Homo sapiens: one gene and its partner. The protein of the gene in region 1 purifies or fractionates together with the protein of each later gene. This does not show direct contact. Each region holds a gene or a part of one and is shown on either strand. Other genes may lie near its edges. The genes, in order: LRRC57 and INF2.

Region 1 (3,815 bases):
GGGTGGATCACGAGGTCAGGAGTTCAAGACCAGCCTGACCAATGTGGTGATACCCCATCTCTACTAAAAATACAAAAATTAGCTGGGTGTGGTGGCACGTGCCTGTAATCCCAGATACTCAGGAGGCTGAGGCAGGAGAATTGCTTGAAACCGGGAGGCGGAGCTTGCAGTGAGGGTGCCATTGAACTCCAGCCTGGGCAATAGAGTGAGACTGCGTCTCAAAAAAAAAAAAAAAGGCCGGGCGCGGTGGCTCACGCCTGTAATCCCAGCACTTTGGGAGGCCGAGGCGGGCAGATCACGAGGTCAAGAGATCGAGACCATCCTGGCTAACACGGTGAAACCCTGTCACTACTAAAAATACAAAAAATTAGCCGGGCGTAGTGGTGGGCGCCTGTAGTCTCAGCTACATGGGAGGCTGAGGCAGGAGAATGGCGTGAACCCGGGAGGCGGAGCTTGCAGTGAGCGGAGATCTTGCCACTGCACTCCAGCCTGGGTGACAGAGCCAGACTCCATCTCAAAAAAAAAAAAAAAAGAATCTGAAGGTACAAAGGTAGAGGATTTCAGACTACCACTAACATCAACATTTAGAAAGCTACCATTTTGGTCATTTTCTGATTTTATCTTAGTCACAAAGCTATTACTAACTATATATCAACAGTTCTCAATAATGGTTAAACCTAGCTTATCCATTAAGTCAAGAGATCACACAAACCTACTATTTAACCTCCACGACAAAATCTTTCTGACGTAAATCTGGTCTAGGTGTTCTCTTTTTCCCATATGTTACTTTCTTTTTTGAGACAGAATTTCATTCCAGACTGGAGCGCAGTAGCACTATCTTGGCTCACTGCAACCTCCACCTACCAGGTTCAACTGATTCTTGTGCCTCATTCTCCTGAGTAATTGGGATTACAGGCATGCACCACCACACCCAGCTCATTTTTGTATTTTTAGTAGAGACAGGGTTTCACCGTGTTGGCCAGACTGGTCTTGAACTCCTGGCTTCAGGTGATCCACCCACCTCAGCCTCCCAAAGTGCTGGGATTACAGGTGGGAGCCAACACACCCAGCCTCCCATATGTCATTTTCTATTTCTCACTTTGAAAGGGGTACTAGTTTATCCATACCAGTTTAGGAGTTTTGTTTTTTCTAAATTTTAATGTTTATTAATCTTATTGATCTACTGAACAATTAACATTTCTGTGTTTTATCAGTACTTCTCATCTAATAAATCAGAACTTATACATTTTTTTTTTTTTTCTGAGACGGAGTCTCATTCTTTCACCCAGGCTGGAGTGCAGTGGTGCGATCTTGGCTCATTGCAACCTCTGCCTCCCAGGTTCAAGCAATTCTCCTGCCTCAGCCTCCTGAGTAGCTGGTACTACAGGCAGGCGCACGCCACCACGCCCTGCTAATTTTTTGTATTTTAGTAGAGATGGGGTTTCACCATGTTGGCCAGGCTAGTCTCGAACTCCTGACCTCAGGTGATCCACCCGCCTTGGTCTCCCAAAGGGCTGGGATTACAGGCGTGAGCCACCACGCCTGGCCAGAACTTATACATTTAACAATTTAAATGTTCCCATTTAATTATTAATTGGAGTTTAATCCACACTCTTATCAGAATCCACAACTACCACCCTTCACAATTTGGGCCTAGACTTATTGCCCTTTCTTCACTCTCATTTGCCTGCCCACCCATATCAGATTATTCTCTCTAAACCCACAGTGCAGTCTTTTCTGACCTCCTTTATACAGCTTGTCCCTCAGTGTCCATGGAGGATTGGTTTCAATACCTCCATGGATACCAAGTCCATGATGCTCAAGTCCCTTATACAAAATGACATAGTATCTTCCTGATACTTTAAATTATCTCTAGATTACTTATAATACCTAATATGCCTACACATAACTTCATTTGCATAGATTCAACATAGTATTTGATGCATGCTAAATTAAGGTTTTGTTTTTTAGAAATTTGAGGCATTTTCCCGCTCAAATATTTCTGACCTGCAGTTGAATCCACAGATGTGGAACCCATGGATACTTAGGGCCAACTGTATTGTTCACTCAGTTGGGAATGCCCTTTTTTTTTTTTTTTTTGGTCCAGAGGCTCACTCTTGCCCACGCTGGAGTACAATGGCGCGATCTTGGCTCACTGCAACCTCCGCCTCCCGGGTTCAAGTGATTCTCCTGCCTCAGCCTCCTGAGTAGCTGGGATTACAGGCAGGTGCCACCACACCTGGCTAATTTTTGTATTTTTAGTAGAGACGGGGTTTCACCATGTTGGTCAGGCTGATCTCAAACTCCTGACCTCAGTTGATCCACCTGCCTTGGCCTCCCAAAATGCTGGGAATTGCAGGCGTGAGCTAACGTGCCCAGCCTGCCCTCTCTTAATTAATATGCTCATTCTGTATGTCTAAGCCTCTTTCCTGCGTCTAAGCCGAATTAACTGCTCACCCATCTGTTACTATAGCACTTCTCACATTCTATATTTATCTTTCATGATAGACTAACTCTTTGAGGGCAAGGGCTATATACAGTAATATGCCCAAAGTTACAGCAAACAAGATTTAGATTTAAATATGAGCTAATCAAGTAAACTAGCTTGTGGTCTAAAGACCCAGATTTGAATCTGGCCACTAGTCCAAGTCACCTAATTTTTTTTTTCTTTTTTTGCGACAGATCTTGCTGTGTTGCCTGGGCTAGTCTTAAACTGGACTCAAGTGATCCTCCCATCTTGGCCTCCCAAAGTATTGAGATTACAGGTGTGAGCCACTGCCTGGCTTTTAAGTCTCTTTTTTTTTTTTTTTTTTTTTGAGACAGAGGCTGTCTGTTTCGCCCAGGTTGGAATGCAGTGGCACAATCTCGGGTCACTGCAACCTCCACTTCCTGAGTTCTAGCAATTCTCCTGCCTCAGCCTCCTGAATAGCTGGGATTACAGGTGCCCACCACCACGCCCAGCTAATTTTTGTATTTTTAGTAAAATGGGGTTTCACTATGTTAGCCAGGCTTATCTCAGACTCCTGGCCTCAGGTGATCCCCCTGCCTTGGCTTCCCATAGTGCTGGGATTACAGGTGTTAGCCACCACGCCCAGCCTATATGTATTTTTTGAGACAGGGTCTTGCTCTATTGCCCAGGCTGAAGTGCAGTGGCATGATCACAGCTCACAAATGCCTTGATCTCCTGGGCTCAAGCTATCTCCTCCCACCTCAGCCTCTTAAGTAGCTGGAGCTACAGGTTATCTGCCACCACACTCAGCTAATTTTTAATTTTTTAGAAAGACGGGGTCTTCCTGTGTTCCCCAGGCTGGCCCCAAACTCCTGGGCTCAAGCAATCCTGCCTTACCTCCCAAAGTGCTGGGATTACAGGTGTGAGCCACCACATCTGGCCCAAGTCACCCAAATTTTTTACAGCTTGGTTTGGAAGGCAATGTAGTATATTAAAATTATGGGCCCTGGAGTCAGAAAGATCCAGGTTTGAATACAGAGTCCGTCATTTATTAGCTTTATGAATTTGAGCAATTTCGTCTCACTTGTAAATATAGGGAATAGCTCCTACCTCTCAGGTATGTTGCAAAAAACTATATAAAAGCACTTAGCATAGTGGCCATGACAGAGTAAGCACTCAGTAAATCATGCCATTTATCTCATCTATAAGGCATGAAAGTAGAATTTTACAAGTTGTACAGAAATAGAAGGCTTGGAGTGGACACTACATTAAAAGGATAAAAAAATGGAGCCAGGCAGAGGCAGGCATCTATAGTCCCAGCTATTGAGGAGGCCTGAGGCTGGAGGATCCCTTGAACCTAGGAGTT
Region 2 (3,815 bases), on another chromosome or scaffold:
GTCCCAGCCCACTGCTGTGGGCCACAGACAAGTGCCCGGCACCCCCTGGCGTCTGCCTGCCAGGCCCAGAGCCCCAGCCCTGAGCCCAGCTGCACAGGCATGGGAAGGGGTGCATTGGCCCTGCTGAGCCTGCCCACTCCACCCTGGCAGCCCTGGACACATCCAACGTGATGGTGAAGAAGCAGGTGTTTGAGCTACTGGCTGCCCTGTGCATCTACTCTCCCGAGGGCCACGTGCTGACCCTGGACGCCCTGGACCACTACAAGGTGGGCGGCAGGGCCTGGGCCTGGGCACATGGGGCTCCCTGCCTGGGTGTGCCCTGACCCCGCCCTCCCCACAGACGGTGTGCAGCCAGCAGTACCGCTTCAGCATTGTCATGAACGAGCTCTCCGGCAGCGACAACGTGCCCTACGTGGTCACCCTGCTTAGCGTGATCAACGCCGTCATCTTGGGCCCCGAGGACCTGCGCGCGCGCACCCAGCTGCGGAACGAGTTTATCGGTAAGCACCTGCCCTGGGCCGCATGCCCGCTCCTGCCCGCCTCTTGGCCAGTGCATCCCATGCTGCATCCACCTGGGGAGGTGGGAGCGCCACAAAAGCTGCCCCCGACCCAGGGCCCCAGAGGAAGGCGCCATCTCGGGCCTGCCACCACCTGCCCCTTCAATGGACACAGGCCTCAGAACGCCTGGGGGTCAACCCTGGACCGTTCTCATTTGTGAGACTGGCCAGGCAGTGGAGCCGGACAGGGGGCCTGAGACCTCGTTCTAGCCCTGCCAGTTCTGGCAGTGAGCCCTGAGTAAGCATCACTGTGTGTCCAGCATGATGTCTCCCCTCCAGAGCCTCAGGTCTCTGGTGTCCCATGAGTGCAGCAGGGCAGGGTCAGGTGCTCTGGGTGGCAGAAGTGAAATGGGGAAGGCGGGGAGTGGCCTCCGAACCCTCTGACCCTGTCCGTCCCTTCCCAGGGCTGCAGCTGCTGGACGTCCTGGCTCGCCTGCGGTGAGTCCCCACTGTAGCGGTCCTGCCGGCTCCCCCTCCTGCTCCCAAGGCCAGGCCCACCTGCCCTTTGGCTCCCAGCCACCTCACCTAAGCAGCACCTCCAGATGGCAGGGAGGTGGCTCCCTCGGAGTAACCCCAGGGGTCCAGCCAGAAGCCAGGTCTCAGGCTAGAATCCAGCTCACTGTCCCTGGCAGCTGCCCACAGAAACTAGGGTTGCAGCAGCCATAGAAAGGACAGAATGAGCTCATATCCTTTGCACACCGTGGATGGAGCTGGAGGCCGTGATCCTAAGTGAACCAACCCAGAAACAGAAAATGAAATGCCAATAAGAGGGAACTACAGGGTGGTTCACGTGGACGCAAGATGGAGACAGGGACACGGGCTCCAGGGCGAGAGTTGAAAAACTACCTACAGGGTACAGTGTTCGTCGCTACTTGGTGTCAGGCCCACTAGAACAAGGGTCCCCAACCGCCAGGCTGCGGACCGGTACCTGGCCTATTGGAACCGGGCCACGCAGCAGGAAGTGAGCGGTGGGCGGGCATTCCTGCCTGAGCTGCACCTCATGTCAGATCAGCACTGCATTAGATTCTCCAGCGCACGCACGCGCGCAAGGGATCCAGGCTGCGCGCTCCTCATGACAATCTAATGCCTGATGATCGGGGGTGGAACAGTTTTATCCCTAAACCATTCCCGTCACCCCAGTCTATGGAAAAATTGTCTTCCACAAAACCAGTCCCTGGTGCCAAAAAGGCTGGGGACCACTGCCCTAGAAGGCAAATCGCCTACGTTACACAGTGTACCATGTGGCAAACACGCACATGTACCCCCGAGTCTAAAATAAAAATTTTTTAAAAAAGAAACTAGGGTTGCCAGGTACTGTATGGGACATGCAGTTCATTCAGGTTTCAGATACACAACAGACGATATTTTGGTGTAAGTATATCCCAGATGTTGCATGGGATATACTTATGCCAAAAGTTATTCATTGTTTGTCTGAAATTCAAATTGAACAGGTACTCTGTAGTTTCATTTGCTAAATCTTGCAGCCCTGCTGGGAACCCACATAGCTGAGAAGCTCTATCCAGGCCTCAGTCAGGACTGTACTCAGGGGGGTGTCCTTACACCCAGGGAAATCAGCTTGGAGGAGCCCAGGGCTAGAATGCCTGGTGTTGAAATGGCCTCAGGGGCCAGGCGCGGTGGCTCACGCCTGTAATTCCAGCACTTTGGGAGGCCAAGATGGGCAGATCACCTGAGGTCAGGAGTTCGAGACCAGCTTGGCCAACATGGTGAAACCCCATCTCTACTAAAAGTACAAAAATTAGCTGGCCGTGGTGGCATGTGCCTGCAATCCCAACTACTCAGGAGGCTGAGGCAGGACAATCATTGGATCCCAGGAGGTAGAAGTTGTAGTGAGCTGAGATCGTACCACTGCACTCCAGCATGGGTGACAGAGCGAGACTCCATCTCAAAAAAAAAAAACAGAAATGGCCTCAGCAAAGTTTGCCCACATGGGTGCCTGTGCCCCACCAGTGTGGGCTGAAGGGGGCCGGCCCTGCCTGCGGAGGGCTGTGCTCATTGACCAGACTGAGATGACTGGCAAGTCCTAGGCCCAGTGAACACTAAGTTTCCTCCTGCTCAGGCCAGAGCCCCGCCCCTCCTGTATCCATGCAGCCCTGTGGACCCACCTCAGGTGTGGTCTTCACTGTAGTCACGCAGCGCCCAGGGGAGGGCCTTCCCTCCCCCAAGGTCACGGCCCGGTTCCATTGTGTGCCACCTCCCCAGGCCTTGGTGCACGTTACTCGATGGGAGTGGGCATACTCGCCCTTCCCCTTCCCCAGGGGCGTGCGGGTGCCTGGTGACCCGGGGGCAGCCTGGCAGGGCGCAAGGCACTGACCTGGGAGCTGCCACTCTTAGGTCGCTATCCCTGGCTATGTGGGTCACATGTCAGCCACAGCTGGCTATGGCCTGGCTCAGAGTCCCAGGTGGGCTGAGCGGGGCTGGTACACTGGCGCTGACCCAGGCTGCCCCGCCTGCGTGTTGGTGGTGGCAGCAGCAGGCTTAGCCCACCTGGCCCCTCCTGCACAGAGACCTGGAGGATGCCGACCTGCTGATCCAGCTGGAGGCTTTCGAGGAGGCTAAGGCCGAGGACGAGGAGGAGCTGCTGCGAGTCTCTGGCGGGGTCGACATGAGCAGCCACCAGGAGGTCTTTGCCTCCCTGTTCCACAAGGTGGGCTGGGGGCTGCAGGGCGGAGGGCAGCCCTCCAGGGCAGGCTGTGGCCCTGAGGTCCAGAGGCTGGGCCTGGAACGGTCCTCCCTGCCCTGGTCAGACCCTGCTGTGACCTGGGCCATGGTGCCAGCTTTGGGGTGAGACTCCAGGGAGCAGCAAGGACCCAGGGGTTGGAAAGGGAGGTGGCGCCTAGAGCGGGCAGCCTGGGGGCCGGGCTGGGCCCTGGGGGCAAAGCCAGGGCCACAGGACCCAGAAGGACGGGGCTCCAAAGACCAGTGCGGCCCACAGCCGGCCTTACTGTCCTGGGCCCCAGCTGCCCAGTCCCCATCAGGTGGGCTTCAGAGGCCTCAGGGCTTGGTGAGGGGCTAAGAGGCTGAATTCTCGTCAAGCTCAGGCCTTCCCCTCATTCCCTGAACCTTGCAGCTCTCATCTGGGGGCAGTTGTGTCCCCAGGTGGCATCTGGCAACATCTGAAGACATTTTTGGCTGCCACGGCTGGGCAGGGGGTGCTGTTGGCATTGAGTAGGTAGAGACCAGTGGTTCTGTTTAACATCCCATAATGCACAGGACAGTCCCACATGTCACCAGTACCAC

The links.
Region 2: the proteins of LRRC57 (region 1) and INF2 purify together in Homo sapiens (co-immunoprecipitation; one large-scale study listed by IntAct). This does not show direct contact.

The regions. Positions count from the first base shown.
Region 1 is NC_000015.10:42,538,479-42,542,293, reverse strand, and holds part of LRRC57 (leucine-rich repeat-containing protein 57), read left to right. Parts: 3' UTR 1-2,682; coding exon of another isoform or gene 2,683-2,706; 3' UTR 2,707-3,815.
Region 2 is NC_000014.9:104,702,955-104,706,769, forward strand, and holds part of INF2 (inverted formin-2), read left to right. Parts: intron 1-150; coding exon 151-266; intron 267-340; coding exon 341-500; intron 501-961; coding exon 962-995; coding exon of another isoform or gene 996-999; exon of another isoform or gene 1,000-1,855; intron 1,856-3,080; coding exon 3,081-3,222; intron 3,223-3,815.